Regions from separate parts of the Homo sapiens genome. Here region 1 is linked to region 2. Evidence: fine-mapped expression QTL. Tissue or cell type: whole blood. Region 2 holds a variant in brackets; the other region holds the start of a gene. All regions are shown on one strand. Distances are from middle to middle.

Region 1 (4,389 bases), 22 kb before region 2:
ACACACCCCTCATTATCTTTCCCCTCCCTGCACCCACTATCATCTCCCTCTCCTTTGTTTAATTATCTGTTCATCATCGTCTTCATCCTCATTTCTTTTCTTTTTTTTTCTGAGATGGAGTCTCACTCTGTCGCCCAGGCTGGAATGCAGTGGCGCGATCTTGGCTCACTGCAACCGTCCTCTCTTGGGTTCAAGCCAGTCTGCCTCAGCTTCCTGAGTAGCTGGGATTACAGGCACCTGCCACCATGCCTAGCTAATTTTTGTGATTTTTTGTTTGTTTGTTTTTGAGATGGAGTCTCGCTCTGTCGCCCAGGCTGGAGTGCAGTGGCGTGATCTCGGCTCACTGCAAGCTCCGCCTCCCGGGTTCACGCCATTCTCCTGCCTCAGCCTCACAAGTAGCTGGGACTACAGGCACCTGCCACCACGCCCGGCTAATTTTTTGTATTTTTAGTAGAGACAGGGTTTCACCGTTTTAGCCGGGTTGGTCTCAATCTCCTGACCTCGTGATCCACCCACCTCAGCCTCCCAAAGTGCTAGGATTACAGGCGTGAGCCACCGTGCCCCACCTAGTGCAAGTTTCTAGTTGGCTTCCAAACTGATTCCACATCTGTGTCCCACTCCTCAGCCTCTAAACACCTGCTTCTTTTCTGTGAAAACTAGACACATTAACAGTTATACTACAACAGGAAGCCCAGAGAATAGAAGGGCACGTAGTTCAGGGTGCTGCCTTCCAGGGGTTCAGTTTAGTGAGAGAAACAGGAATGCCATATACACACCTAAATATACTCCAATGTATAAATTGCAGCCTGGGCAACATAGCGAGAAACTGTCTCCAAAAAAAAAAGAAAGAAAAAAGAAAAAAACAGGCGCAGTGGCTCACGCCTGTAATCCCAGCTACGCAGGAGGCTGAGGCAGGAGAATCCCTTAAAACCGAGAGGCGGAGGTTGCAGTGAGCCGAGATCGCGCTATTGCACTCCAGGCCGGGCAACTGAACAAGACTCCATCTCAAAAAAAAAAAAAAAAAAAGAAAAAAGAAAAAAAGATGAGGGTGGGATTGTATTCCTGCAGACACCAAGGACCCTCCCTAATTAGCTCTGTGTGACTTGGGGTTGGGGCAGACAGTAGATCCAGAGGAGGAATCTTGGAGCCAAATCTTCCAATGTCTGAGTCGTTACTATCATTCAGATCTCAGTTCAAATATCCCTTTCTCAGAGAAGCCTTTCTTGACACCCATTTTAGAGCAGCACACCTCCACTCTCTAACACACTGCCTCCAGGGCACATATCGTTGCCTCCAGGGCACATATCATTCTGAGCTTTTTTACTATTATCTATCTATCTGTCATCTATTTATCTATTTATTTATTTTTGAGACAGGGTCTCACTCTGTCACCCAGGCTGGAGTGAGTGGCAGGATCACAGCTCACTGCAGCCTCAAAATCCTGGGCTCAAATGATTTTCCTGCCTCAGCCTGAGAGTAGCTGGGACTACAGGTGCATGCCACTATGCCTGGCTAATTTTTAAATTTTTTTTGTAGAGATGGGTCTCACTATGTTGCCAAGGCTGATCTCGAACTCCTGACCTCAAGTGATGCTCCTGCCTTGGCCTCCCATCGTGTTGGGATCAGAGGCGTGAGCCACCTCACCTGGCCTGGATTATTTATTCTACTCGCCAATTGTCTGTCTTCCCCAGTGGACTGCTCTGTCTTGTTCAGCCCTATAAGGTATCCCCAGTGCCTTATTAGGCCCTCAATTTTTGTTTTGTTTTGTTTTGGGGGTGGCTGGATGAAGGAATGGATGGAGACCCTTCCTCCATCCTCAGGACGCCTCTTTTTAGGAACAAGGTGACCTGTTCTTTTGAGCTTGACCAGAGGGCAGAGGTAGAACAAGGAAAGCCTACGACGGGAAGAAAGATTGGAGTGGATTGAGAAGAAGAAGGATGAACAGCTGGATTAGAGAAATTGAGGCAGGCTGCGGAGACTCAAGGAGGTTTCCAAGGGCGAAGGGCCACGGGCAGAAGACGAGTGGAGCTGCACTGAGCAGGTCCTGGCAGGGAGGACTGGGGCTGGAATAGGTGGGCCTGCGGGTGGGGCGGGGCCGACGGGGGGGGTTGATGGTCCTGTGATGGGGCGGGGCGGGAGGGAGGCGGGTCCTACAGCGGGAGGCGGGGCCTGTGATGGTCCGGGGAGGGAGGCGGGGCTTATGATGGGCCGGGGAGGGAGGCGGGGCCTGTGATGGGGGCGGGCCCTACGGCGGGCGGGGCGGGGTTCGGGTGCGAGGCCGGTCCTGCAGGCGGCAGCCAGAGCTGCGCGCCGCGGCGGCGGAAGATGGCTGCGGCCGAGGTGGCGGACACTCAGCTGATGCTTGGAGTCGGGCTGATCGGTGAGGACGTAGGCGCCCTGCCTGGAAGCCCGCACCCTGGTTCTGCCTCTGCTCCACCTCGGCCCGGGGCAGCCCGGGCTCCCGCGGCCCCCGGCGCCGACCGCATGAGGAGGGCGCGGCCCCCTCCCTGTTGGGCCTGGACTGGGGACTGCGGAGCCCGGCCTCCTTGGTGCAGGGGACCCGGCCCGCCGCCCTCGCCCGCCCGCCCGCGGCCGCCTGTGGGGCCTGCCCGGCCCGAGGGAGCCCGGGGACCTCCAAGATTCCGGGGTGGAGCTCCCCCTGCACGCCCCGGGTTGCCCGGCGGAGCCGGGACGTCGAGCGCTCCCAGGCTGGGCAGCTGCGAGGGGCGCTGCGCGGGCGGGGCCGGGCCGGGCGGGAGCAGCCGGCTGGCGGCGCGGCGCGGCGCGGCGGGGAGGAGGCAGGGTCCGGTTCCCCCGAGCCGGGGGCGGGCGGCTGCCTCGGAGCCACGGGTGACTGCCCGCCCGGGCGGCCCCCATCGTGGGACCGGGCAGCTGGAGACTGCTGGGCCGGGTGCTGCGCGTTGTACACACATTGTCTCCTTTTAGCTCTCACCAAGGACCGAGGGGCCGTGGGAAACGTCTGACGCCCACTTCACGGAGGAGCAAATGGAGGCCCAGGCCGTCATTGTGCACGGACACACCATAGGCCGTACAGAGCCGGGAGTGGGACCCTCGCAGTGTATCCCAGAGCCCCCAACCCCCACCAGTGGAGAGCTCCTGCATCATGTGATCGAGCTTGTGCATAAATAAAGCAGGAGTTTCTACACAATCCTGTGTGGTGGAATCTCGGTTAGCTCTGAGGAATGTAATTATCTTCCATAATTAAAAAATATCACACGGGGATCTTTGGGCAGCCTCGTGCAGTATTTAGGGGATGGAACCCGTTGGTTCCCTTCGAAAAAGTTTTATTTTCCCGAGATTTTTGCACACCCCTAAACTCTTTCTATTCCCCAAGTGCGCAATAACATTGCTTAGGCTTTAGCAAAACTGAAGAAATATGCTGATTATTTTTCAGTGCCTCAAAGCAGTGCGTTTATGTGGGAATCGCTTACTGTTTTTATTTCTTTGTCTTTCTTCTTTTTTTTTTTTTTAGACGGGGTCTCCCTCTTATCCAGGCTGGAGTGCAGTAGCGCAATCATCGCTCTCTGCAGCCTCCACCTCCCAGGCCCAAACCATCCTCCCGCCTCGGCCTCCGAGTAGCTGGGACCTCAGGCGTGCACCACCACCCGATTAATTTTTGTATTTTTTGTGGAGATGGGATACCGACATGTTGTCCAGGTGGATTACTGTATTTATTTCTAATGTGATTTTCAAACTGCTTCAAAACAAAACCTAAGTAACTTAGTTTCTCCAGAAGGTACTTTTGAACTAAGGCTAAGTTAAACTGTCTTTATCTACTAATAGCAAATAAAAAGATGACATATGATCATATTTTGAACTCAGCAGTTTTTTAATTATTCACACTAACGTGCATTTAAAAGGGGTTTGCAGCCAGCCTGGGCAATGTGGTAAAACCCTCGTGTCTCTACAAAAAATACAAAAATTAGCCGGGTGTGGTGTGCCTGTAGGTGGGAGGATTGCTTGGTCCCAGGAGGCAGAGGTTGCAGTGAACTGAGATCATGCCACTGTACTCCAGCATGGGTGACAGAGTGAGACCCCCCCCAACCCCGTCTCAAAAAAAGAAATTGAAAAAAGAGGCCAGGCGTGGTGGCTCATGCCTGTAATCCTAGCACTTTGGGAGGCTGAGGCAGGTGGATCAATTGAGGCTGGGAGTTGATCAGCCTGGCCAATATAGCGAGACCCTGTCTTCACTAAAAAGGCAAAAAATTAACTGGGCGTGGTGGTGCACACCTGTAATCTCAGCTACTTAGGAGGCTGAGGCAGGAGAATCACTTGAACCCGGGAGGTGGAAGTTGCAGTGAGCTGAGATCAGAGGTGGAGGTTGCAGTGAGCTGAGATTGCGCCACCGCACTGCAGCCCAAGTGACAG
Region 2 (4,389 bases):
CAGGACTGGACCATCCTTCACTCTTACGTGCACCTCAACGCCGATGAGCTGGAAGCCCTGCAGATGTGCACAGGTAGACAAGAGGATCCCAGGGGAGGAACTGTTTCACTTTTTTTTTTTTTTTTTTCCTGAGACGGATTTTCACTCTTGTTGCCCAGGATGGAGTGCAATGGCACGATCTTAGCTCACCGCAACGTCCGCCTTCAATTCTCCTGCCTTAGCCTCCCAAGTAGCTGGGATTACAGGCATGTGCCACCACGCCTGGCTAATTTTATTCCACTTTAAAGAGGGTTTTTTGTTTTTATTTTGTGCATTCCCAAGTGGGATACTGATCCTTTATTATTTCTTTGGCACATGCAATCAATTTTTTGCCCTTAAATTTTTTTTTTTTTTTTAGTTTAAAAAAAAATTGTGGCCGGGAGCGGTAGCTCACACCTGTAATTCCAGCACTTTGGGAGGCCAAGGTGGGCAGATCACCTGAGGTCGGGAGTTCAAGACCAGCCTGACCAACATGGAGAAACCCCGTCTCTACTAAAAATACAAAAAATTAGCTGGGTATGGTGGCACATGCCTGTAATCCCAGCTACTTGGGAGGCTGAGGCAGGAGAAACACTTGAACCTGGGAGGCGGAGGTTGCGGTGAGCCAAGATCACACCACTACACTCCAGCCTGGGCAGCAAGAGCAAAACTCCGTCTCAAAAAAAAAAAAAAATTGTGGTAAAATGCATATAGGATTTACCTTTTTTTGGCCGGGCGCGGTGCCTCATGCCTATAATCCTAGCACTTTAGGAGGCTGAGGCAAGTGGATTGCCTGAGCTCAGGAGTTTGAGACCACCCTGGCCAACATGGGGAAACCGTATCTCTACTAAAATACCAAAAAAAAAAAAAAAAAAAATTAGCCGGGTGTGGTGGTGGGTGCCTGTAGTCCCAGCTACTCGGGAGGCTGAGGCACAAGAATCACTTGAACCCAGCAGGTGGAGGTCGCAGTGAGCTGAGACTGAGCCACTGCACTCCAGCCAGGGCGACAGAGCGAGACTCTGTCTCCAGAAAAAAAGATTTACCTTTTTTTTTGAGACCAGGTCTTCCTGTGTTACTCAGGCTGGTCTTGAACTCCCGAACTCAAGCGATCTGCCCATCTTGGCCTCCCACACTGTTGGGATTACAGGTGTCAGCTGCTACGCACAGCTACATTTACCTTTTTAACCATTGGTAAACATACAGTTCAGTGGCATTAAGTACATTCACGTTGTTGTTCAGCCATCATCAAAATGCAGCCTGTTTTTGGCTGGGCACAGTGGCTCACACCTGTAATCCCAGCACTTTGGGAGGCCGAGGTGGGGTGATCGCCTGAGCCCAGGAGTTCCAGACCAGCCTGGGCAACATAGGAGACCTGTCTTTTAAAATTTTTAAATTATAAAATAAAATTTAAAAAATGCAACCTATATTTAACTATTTAACCTGTAAAGTTTTTTTTTGTTTTTGTTTTTTTCTTGGGACGGAGTTTTGTTCTTGTTGTCCAGGCTGGAGTGCAATAGTGTGATCTCAGCTCACTGCAACCTCTGCCTCCTAGGTTCAAGCAATTCTCCTGCCTTAGCCTCCCTAGTAGCTGCGATTACAGGCACCTGCCACCATGCCCAGCTAATTTTTGTATTTTTAGTAGAGACAGGGTTTCTCCACGTTGGCCAGGCTGGTCTCAAATTCCTTACCTTAGGTGATCCACCCACCTCAGGCTCCCAAAGTGCCTGGATTGCAGGCATGAGCCATTGTGCCTGGCCGAACTTGTAAAGTTCTAGTCTTAAAAGTTTATCAGTGACTTTTTTTTTTCATCTTAACTTTTTAATTGTTATGGGTATATAATAGGTATATGTATTTATGGGGTACATATGATGTTTTGATACAGGCCTACAATGTATAATGATTACATCAGGGTAATTGCAGTATCCATCACCTCAAGCATTTATGATTTCTTTGTGTTAAGAACATTGTGATTCCACTTCTAGTTTTCTTTTTTTTTTTTTTTTTTTTTTTTGAGTTGGAGTCTCACTCTGTTGCCCAGGCTGGAGTGCAGTGGCACGATCTCAGCATACTACGGCCTCCACCTCCCAGGTTCAAGCGATTCTCCTGCCTCAGCTGCCTGAGTAGCTGGGATTACAGGTGTGCACCACCATGCCCAGCTAATTTTTTTGTATTTTTGGTAGAGAGTAGAGATGGGGTTTTACCATGTTGGCCAGGCTGGTCTCAAACTTCTGACCTCAGGTGATCCACCCGCCTCAGCTTCCCAAAGTGTTGGGATTACAGGTGTGAGCCACTGTGCCCAGCCAACTTCTAGTTATTTTTAAATATACAATAAACTATCATTCACTGTAGTCACCCTATTGTGCTATCAAATACTAGGTCTTATTCATTCTAACTATATTTTTGTATCCACTAACCATCCCAAATTTTCCCCCTCTCCCCACTACCCTTCCTAACCTCTGGTACCC[A/C]CCATTCTACTCTCTATCTCCCTGAGTTCCATTGTTTTAATTTTTAGCTCCCCCAGATTAGTGAGAACATGCAAAATTTGTCTTTCTGTCCGTGGCTTCTTTTACTTAACATGATGCCTCCAGTTCCATCCATGTTGTTGCAAATGACAGGATTTCATTCCTTTTTATAGCTGCATAATATTCCACTGTGTATATGCACCACATTTTCTTTTCCATTCATCTGTTGATGGACACTCAGTTTGATTCCAAATCTTGGTGGTTGTGAACCGTGCTGCAGTGAACATGGGAATGGTGGTATCTCTTTGATACACTGATTTCCTTTTTTGGGGGTAAATACCCAGCAGTGGGATTGCTGGATCATATGGTAGTTCTATTTTTAGTTTTTCGAGGAATTTCCATACTGTTCTCCATAGTGACTGTACTAATTTACATTCCTACCAACAGTGTACGAGAGTTCTTTTTCTCTACATTCTTGCCATCGTTTGTTATTGCCTGTCTTTTTTGAGACAGAGTCTCCCTCTGTTGTCCAGGCCAGAGTGCAGTGGCATGCTCTCAGCTCACTGCAACCTCCACTTCCCTGGTTCAAGCAGTTCTCTTATCTCAGCCTCCTGAGTAGCTGGAACTGCAGGCACCCACCACCATGCCTGGCTAATTTTTGTATTTTTAGTAGAGACAGGGTTTCACCATATTGGTCAGGCTGGTCTCGAACTCCTGACCTCAGATGATCCACCTGCCTTGACCTCCCAAAGTTCTGGGATTACAGGCGTGAGCCACTGCGCCCAGCCGTCTGTATTTTTTTTTAGAGACAAAGTCTTGCTTTATTGCCTGGGCTTGTCTTGAATTCCTGGGCTCTGGGATTATAGGCATGAGCCACTGTGCCTGGCCATTTTCTTATGAAAATTTTTCTTTCTCTTTTTCTTTTCTTTTTTTTTTTTTTGAGACAGGGTCTTGCTCTGTCGCCCAGGCTGGAGTGCAGTGGCTCAGTCTCGGCTCATTGCAACCTCCACTTCCTGGGCTTAAGCCATCCTTCTACCCCAGCCTCCCAAGTAGCTGGGACTACAGGCACGTGCCACCATGCCTGGCTAATTTTTGTATTTTTTTTTTTGGTAGAGATAAGGTTTCACCATGTTGCCCTGGCTGGTCTCGAACTCTTGAGCTCAACAGTCCTCCCGCCTTGGCCTCCCAAAGTGCTGAGATTATAGGTGTGAGCTACTGTGCCTGGCCTAAACATTTTTAATGTTTTTTATTTCCCAGTGAAGTTATTAATTTATCTGGAATAATTTTTTGTGTAGTGTGTGAGTTTGGGATCTGACTGAACTTTTTTACCCTATGGATAACCACTTGGACCAGGACATTTATTGAATAATCTCTTTCTTTTTTCAGTAATGAGTAATATTACTTGTCATCTGTCACATTTTCTCATTCATGGGTGGGCCTGGGTCTGGCTCTCAGTAGTAGGTTTTGTTTTTGTTGTTTTTTAAATTATTTTGTTTTATCTTATTTTATTTTATTTTTTTGAGACAGAGTCTCGCTCTGTTGCCCAGGCTGGAGTGCAGTGGCGTGATCTTGGCTCACTGCAACTTCCATCTCCCAGGTTCAAGCAATTCTTGTGCCTCAGCCTCCCGAGTAACAGGGACTACAGGCATGTGCCACCATGCCCAGCTAATTTTTTTTTTTATTTTATTTTTAGTAGAGATGGGGTTTCGCCATGTTGCCCAGGCAGGCCTCGAACTCCTGAGCTCAAGCAATCCACCCGCCTCAGCCTCCCAAAGGGCTAGGATTACAGGCATGAGCCACTGCGCCTGGCCACCAGCTAATTTTTGTATTTTTAGTAGAGACAGGGTTTCATCATGTTGGCCAGGACAGTCTCAAACTCCTGGCCTCAAGTGATCCTCCCACCTCGGCT

What was found. PIP is the estimated chance that this variant, and not a neighbour inherited with it, causes the effect.
Region 1: DENND10 starts here. The variant in region 2 is the best candidate, but not a certain one, in a credible set for the expression of DENND10 in whole blood (INTERVAL, PIP 0.87).

The regions. Positions count from the first base shown.
Region 1 is chr10:119,101,818-119,106,206 of GRCh38, forward strand. It overlaps DENND10 (DENN domain containing 10), which reads left to right and starts at 2,296. Exons shown (of 9, transcript NM_207009.4): 1 at 2,296-2,380. The coding sequence starts at 2,326. RefSeq lists a silencer at 2,085-2,864 and an enhancer at 4,006-4,389.
Region 2 is chr10:119,123,497-119,127,885 of GRCh38, forward strand. It overlaps DENND10 (DENN domain containing 10), which reads left to right. Exons shown (of 9, transcript NM_207009.4): 6 at 1-73. Among named protein-coding and RNA genes, the nearest start is that of DENND10, 22 kb to the left of the region's middle. The variant A/C (reference allele first, on the strand shown) is at 2,484.